2 linked regions of the Homo sapiens genome follow. The protein of the gene in region 2 purifies or fractionates together with the protein of the main gene of each other region. This does not show direct contact. Each region holds a gene or a part of one and is shown on either strand. Other genes may lie near its edges.

Region 1 (3,407 bases), on a different chromosome or scaffold from region 2:
AGGTGAAAGGATGGCCTGAGCCCAGGAGTTCAAGGCTACAGTGAGCTCTGATTGCACCACTGTACTCCAGCCTGGGCGATAGAGTGAAACCATCTCTAAATGAATAAAGCAAAAGCACATCAATAACACTAACTTACATGATGTGAAGTCACAGCCCCCTGACAAATTACACACTCCAGCAAGTGAGCCTCAAAGTTTAAATGAACTACTATTATCAAACAAAAAATAAAGAATACAAAAACAAGAAAATAAACAAAAATAAATTAACTACTATTAAGTCCAACTCTTTCCACTAGAACCATCTAGAAATTTCCCATTAGAATTTGTTTTAAAACTAAGCCAAAAAATTCTTATGCTAGCCACTGCTTATCCATGCCAAACATCATAGACAGACAAAAAAGAACTAAAAATACTAATTTCTAGACAAAGCAGCAACGTGACATAACTTGGAAATAGGATCCTGAGCAGGAGGGTAGAGCAGGGCATGGGCTGCAGAGGCAGGGAATACCAACCATGGCCCCGAAAAGCCTCTTGAACTCTGAGCCTCAGCCGCCTGTCTATAAATATAAACAAGCCCTGAGACCAGCTCAGAAAGAAGACGTGAAGACCAAGCGCAGCACCGTGGGACGTGCCCAACCCAGTGCCCGGCTCCAACGGGCTCGACACACGGAGGTGCTGCCCTGGCCATCCTCAGTGGCGCTGGCCACACACCCTGGAGTGTGGAGCCATGGCACTGCTGCCAGGCATGTGGAGGGCAAAGAAGGTGACTTGGAGAAACAATACACAAAGATCTCCTCAAGGCAGATCAATTTTATCTAAGTAATTTCGTATATAATTTAGAAAAGCCACATTCCAGCACCCAGGTTTCTTTGGCTGCTTCTGGACTGGGCACGATGCACACGTGTCACACTGGCACAGGGTGTGTGTCACTGGCACAGGAGGGTGTCACTAGCATGCACGGTGTGTTACATGGTGCTGGGGGGTGTCAACAGCACTGGGGGGTGCGTCACACTAGCACTGCGGGGGGCATCAGCACTTTCCGAGGTACACAGGACGCAGTGGCTGCTTACCCCTTTTTACACTTCTTGAATATTTTCCCAATCTTGTCATGGGGAACATCGTATTTGTCTGAGATCTAAAAGAGGAAAGAAAAATAATTACAAAACCCTGTATCAAGGCTTTAGAAACCAAACAACAAATATATATATATGTATATATATGTGTACATATATATACGTATATATATGTGTACATATATATACGTATATATATATGTGTACATATATATACGTATATATATGTGTGTACATATATATACGTATATATGTGTGTACATATATATACGTATATATGTGTGTACATATATACGTATATATGTGTGTACATATATATGTATATATATGTGTGTACATATATATGTATATATATGTGTACATATATATGTATATGTATATGTGTACATATATATGTATATGTGTACATATATATGTATATATATATGTGTACATATATATGTACATATGTATATATATACATGTACACACATATATACATATGTATATATACGTATATATATGTATATATATACGTATATATATGTATATATACGTATATATATGTATATATATACGTATATATATGTATATATATACACACACACACACACACACACACATGCATAGTCACTCGACTTTTTGTTTTTCAAAAACGCAGACACAAAGACATGGAAAAGCCCCAGCTCGTGTGCTGGGGGCCTCCAGCTCTCCTCAGCCCGGCTGCCCCTCACTGTAATGAGCTTCTGGGGAGCTGTGGCTGTCTTCCTTTCGGGACATAGAGGCTATTTTTAATATTTTTAAAGAGAATGGGTGAATTGCTCCAAGGACAAACAGCTGATTCACTCTAGATCAAACGTTACACTTGTCATCCAGACCATCCTCAGGCTGGCATCACCAGCTTCACCTCAAGCCACAGAGCAAAGCTCAAGGTGGCACTGAGAAACAGAGCCTCAGGTGGCAAACGTGCAGATCCTGCCAACCTTCCAAACACGTGTTTCAGACCAGACCCCAGCTCCAAGTTCTCACCACACAAACCCTTTTTCTTTTCTGTACGAGTGGATGATAATACTTTGTGTTCTGACATGTAAGACCTGTCATGAGTTCCTCGTGAGCCATGAACAGTTATGCTGGCCCAGTAATTCTGCATCCTCTTTACTCTCCTCTTTCCCTGTAATCAGAATTTGCATGTTTTTTGTTTGTTTGTTTTTTGTTGTTTTTTTTTTTTTGAGACGGAGTCTTGCTATGCCAGGCTGGAGTACAGTGGCGGGATCTCAGCTCACTACAACCTCCACCTCCCTGGTTCAAGTGATTCTCCTGCCTCAGCCTCCCGAGTAGCTGGGATTACAGGCGCCTGCCACCAAGCCTGGCTAATTTTTTGTATTTTTAGTAGAGACAGGGTTTCTCCATGTTGGCCAGGCTGGTCTCGAACTCCTGACCTCAGGTGATCCTCCTGCCTCTGCCTCCCAAAGTGCTGGGATTACAGGTGTGAGCCACCGCACCTGGCCAGTTTGCATGATTCTTAAGACATGATGAAGGGTCATCAAAAGGCAAGAAAAGAGAAACCCAGGGGACATCCTAGGAGGCAGGAAGTGACAGTGGGAACGGCGCTGCCTGTGCTGTGGGCAGGCAGGGATGCACTGAGTGACACCCGTGGACTTGGGGCGCCTGGCTGAGAGACCGCACAGCAGCTCCCCAAACCCACGCCCCATCTCCCTGCTTTATTAATCTTCATGGCACTCATCAGTACCTGAAAAATGACCTCAACTTCTTTGCTTATTTTGGTGTCTGTGTCTTCCTAACTACAAAATAAACTCCATTCAGCACTGTGTCACTGACGCGCATAACTCCAGTGCCCGCCACAGTGCCTGGCATGAAGCAAGCCCTTTATCAAGATGTGTTAAATGAATTCAACACACTACAGTCATCAGAGGGAGCTGGGGGAGATGCTTTTAGCCCAATTATGGACACACTTTGAGCTTAAAGATCTCTACGGTCTCTAGGAGACAGGCTGGTAAATATCTGCACTCAGTGCTGATGACATGCGTTTTTCCAGTGCACAGCTGGAACGGGAAATTAACACAGCAGCCTTCCATGTTTCCTCTCTTACTGATATCCCCACAGGGAGCATGGGGTCAGTTTATTCCAGCCTCGTGCTGAGATCCTCGTAAGATGGACTTACGGCCATCACTGGTTACACGTCTACTTTCTCTGCAATAGGCTGTAGTGAGGTCTTGATGCAAGTTCAGTAATTTCCTAGGATTGGGAGTTTTAAAGGTAGACTGAGGAGCCACTGTTTTTATGTATGAAGTTTTTAAGATTGTACTTGATTAAAAATCACTTTTGTTAGCTTCT
Region 2 (3,359 bases):
ATCACCCTATTAGCTAACTACCCTGTACAAAATAGCAACTTCCCACCCCAGAGTTGCCCAGTTTCATCACCATCTCACATATATATATGTTTTGTTTTGTGGTTTTTTTTTTTGGAGACAGGGTCTCTCTCTCTCTGTTACCCAGGCTGGAGTGCAGTGGCACAATCTCGGCTCACTGCAGCCTCTGCCTCCCGAGGTTCAAGTGATTCTCCCACCTCAGCCCCTGGAGTAGGTGGAACCATAGGCACACCACCCCCCCGACCCCATGCCTGGTGAATTTTTTGCATTTTTTGTAGAGATGGGGTTTTGCCATGTTGCCCAGGCTGGTCTCAAACTCCTGGCCATCTCAGCCTCCCGAAGTGCTGGGATTACAGGCCAACATGTATATATTCTGTTTGTTGTCTGTCCTCTCATATTAGATTGTAAGCTCTATGAGGGCAGGGATATTTTTAAACTACCATACTGTCCCGATGTAGGACAGTTCCTGGCACATAGTAGAGACTTAATATTATGATCAGTGAATAAAGATCTAATTGGTAGAATTTTTAGTTTGGATCTCCTTGGTATCTGTTTTTATAAGCCAGACTTCCCTTCTCCCGAACCTCAGTATTTGTCATTTAAACAAATACCACTTGGAAAAAAAATCAGCCTTATCTCGAGTCTGTTGGATAAATTATATGCACCTGAGAGACCAGCCTTGAATTTTCCAATTACCTCATACATCTAGGGAACTGCTTCCCATGAAGAAGCCTGTTGTATTATATCATCTATCCCCATGTGCCTTTTAATGAATCTGATTTCAGAATTGAGAACAAAAAGCTTACCATTTATTTCAGTTGGAGGTTTCAGTGATTGGACAACTTTATGTAGATGAAGTAACATTGCAATAAAAAATTTCCAGAAGACATCTAGGTTCTGGCTAATGTGTTAGCCTTTAAGCAATATTAATGGTAACAATTCTGTTACAAATATTTAAAGTTTGTGTGTGGGTGTTGGGGATTGGGGGTGCTGTCTCATGCATGCACTACAGTGGAGTCCAAACTCAATTTAACTGAGCTGTCTTGCCTGCTGAAAGACCTGGCAGAGTCAGTGATCAACAGAGCCCAAGACTCCAAGGTGAGGCAAAAAAAGAGTGGGAGGATTTAGGAGCTGTCCCCAGTGTAACAAAGTGCTTCAGAAATCACCTTTGAATTGTGAGCATTGAAGCGTCAACAAGATGCAGCATTATGATGTACGTTATGCCTCTGGTGTTACAGGTAAGAAAAAAGAGTCACAAATAAGAGCCTCTGTCCTCTGGGATGTTGTAACAGGATAAACACCTTGGCTGTCTTGGATAATAAACATACACATACCTGTCAGCCCACCCATACTCTAATGTCCCAAATGCAATAGTTGCTCAACTTTCCTCCAGAGAATGTATCCCTGTATGGTAGGTTTGGCTCAATGAAGAGGTGGTTCAATGAAGTGGATGCTCATTAGAAGCAGGCAGTATAGGAAGAAACATCTCACTCTGACTTGTGAGCTCTTACATATTGATTTCCATTCTTTCATCACTTCCTCAGATCTTCCCTAACTAGGTCAAATCCTGTTATAAGCCCTCCCAGCCGCACAGTCCTCTCTTGTAGCACTCAGCATCATGGCTGATTCACAGCCACACGGGGTTGACTAATGCCTGTCTCCCTTAGATGCTAAGCCTCAGGAGGACAGGATAGTTTTTCATTTTTGCTTACTTTTATATTTCCAGTGCCCAGCAGTGCCTGGCATATAAAAAGTGTTCAATATACATTTCTGAATTACTGTGTGGATAATTAAGCAAGAAAATAGTCTCATCCTTTCTGAAGTAGTCTCTACCTATTAATACATCTGGATTTAGCTATGGAATCTGGGTAAAAAGAACTCAAGATAGTAAAAACATTGTGTAGCTGCATATCTGTCGCCCCTCTTCCCTCCCTGGGAGTTAGGCTGGGTTTGCTTTTTTTTTTTTTCATATCTATCTCCATCCCCTAACTACTGACTTCTGTGGTAGTTTGTACTATAAATGACCCTGATTTCATTTGTAGTTATGAAGACATTTTAGTCTAGGTCATATGCCTAGGAATTCTGAATTTCTATTATAATTCTCTTTGTGCCTACAGATGTGCTTTTAAATTGTTCCTGCCCTTTCCTAAGTCTAGATGCTATATCACAAACAGCAGCACAATATCCCACTTTGGAAACCTAATTCTTTCAAGGTATTAGAGTTGACAGCAAAATTTCAGACAACCAGAGGCCACACTGAACACTGGTGTCTCCATGCTTATCCTATTAGTGCAGGAGAATCTGGCTTCACCTTTGAGCCCTGCTAAAAGCCATTTCATTGAGCAACAGACAATCAGAGCAAGGAAACAACTCAGTGTTCATGAATTGCCATGCTAAATCACTCACAGGATTGATAGAGAAATAAGTCACCTCCCATAAACAGAAAATTTTTTTTTTCTGTTTTTCCTTCTTTTCATTAGCAATTGTTCCAAAAACACTTACTCTGCTAATTTCTGCTAGAAAGAATCACCGTTCTTTCTCTGTGGCCCAGGCTGGAGTGCAGTGGTATGATCTCAGCTCACTGTAACCTCCGCCTCCTGGATTCAAGTGATTCTCCTGCCTCAGCCTCCCGAGTAGCTGCAATTACAGGCACCCAACATCACGCCTGGCTAACTTTTGTATTTTTAGTAGAGAGGAGGTTTTGCCATGTTGGCCAGTCTGGTCTCGAACTCTTGGCCTCAAGTGATCTGCCTGCCTCAGCCTCCCAAATGCTGGGATTACAGGTGTGAACCACTGCGCTGGGCCTGCAATGGGAGTCACTGACAAGGTTTTTAAAGGGCCCAGGACTCTGTCTAGCTGCGGCATGCACAATACTCCTATTTGATCAACATGGCTAAGGCAAAGTCAAACTACATACCTTCCATGAAGTCAATTCTGTCGAGTAAGAAATGCCTTATAAATCCGGTGCTCAGGAATGTTGCACTTTGGAGACAGATGTTCACCATCTGGTTCTCAGCTGCACCCATGCTGCTGCTGGTTCTCATATTCCCAGACCTTGTCCCACAGCAATAACACTAGCACTTGTGTGGCCCTTCATGGTTTTCAAAGCATTTATTACCTCATATCATCCATGCCCAAGTCAGGTGCAATAGGCAGATGTAAAAAGCAAATCCAGCAGCAGTATTGTGACATGAAGGAAGGCTGGTTAACACAGGCAGGACTCATAGTGCAGCACCTCAATTAGACCACTGTGTTGTGGGATGCTGCCCATCGCTAGAAGGTGCAAAGACCCACCTTGTCATACCTAGACTTGACGAAACTGATTTACACTAAAATGAATA

Evidence for each region. The genes of interacting proteins can lie anywhere in the genome.
Region 1: the proteins of TTF2 (region 2) and GRHL1 purify together in Homo sapiens (co-immunoprecipitation; one large-scale study listed by IntAct). This does not show direct contact.

The regions. Positions count from the first base shown.
Region 1 is NC_000002.12:9,996,693-10,000,099, reverse strand, and holds part of GRHL1 (grainyhead-like protein 1 homolog), read right to left. Parts: intron 1,136-3,407; coding exon 1,071-1,135; intron 1-1,070. UniProt on the Homo sapiens protein: Transcription factor involved in epithelial development. Binds directly to the consensus DNA sequence 5'-AACCGGTT-3'.
Region 2 is NC_000001.11:117,104,900-117,108,258, reverse strand, and holds the end of TTF2 (transcription termination factor 2), read right to left. Parts: 3' UTR 806-3,359; downstream 1-805. UniProt on the Homo sapiens protein: DsDNA-dependent ATPase which acts as a transcription termination factor by coupling ATP hydrolysis with removal of RNA polymerase II from the DNA template. May contribute to mitotic transcription repression. May also be involved in pre-mRNA splicing.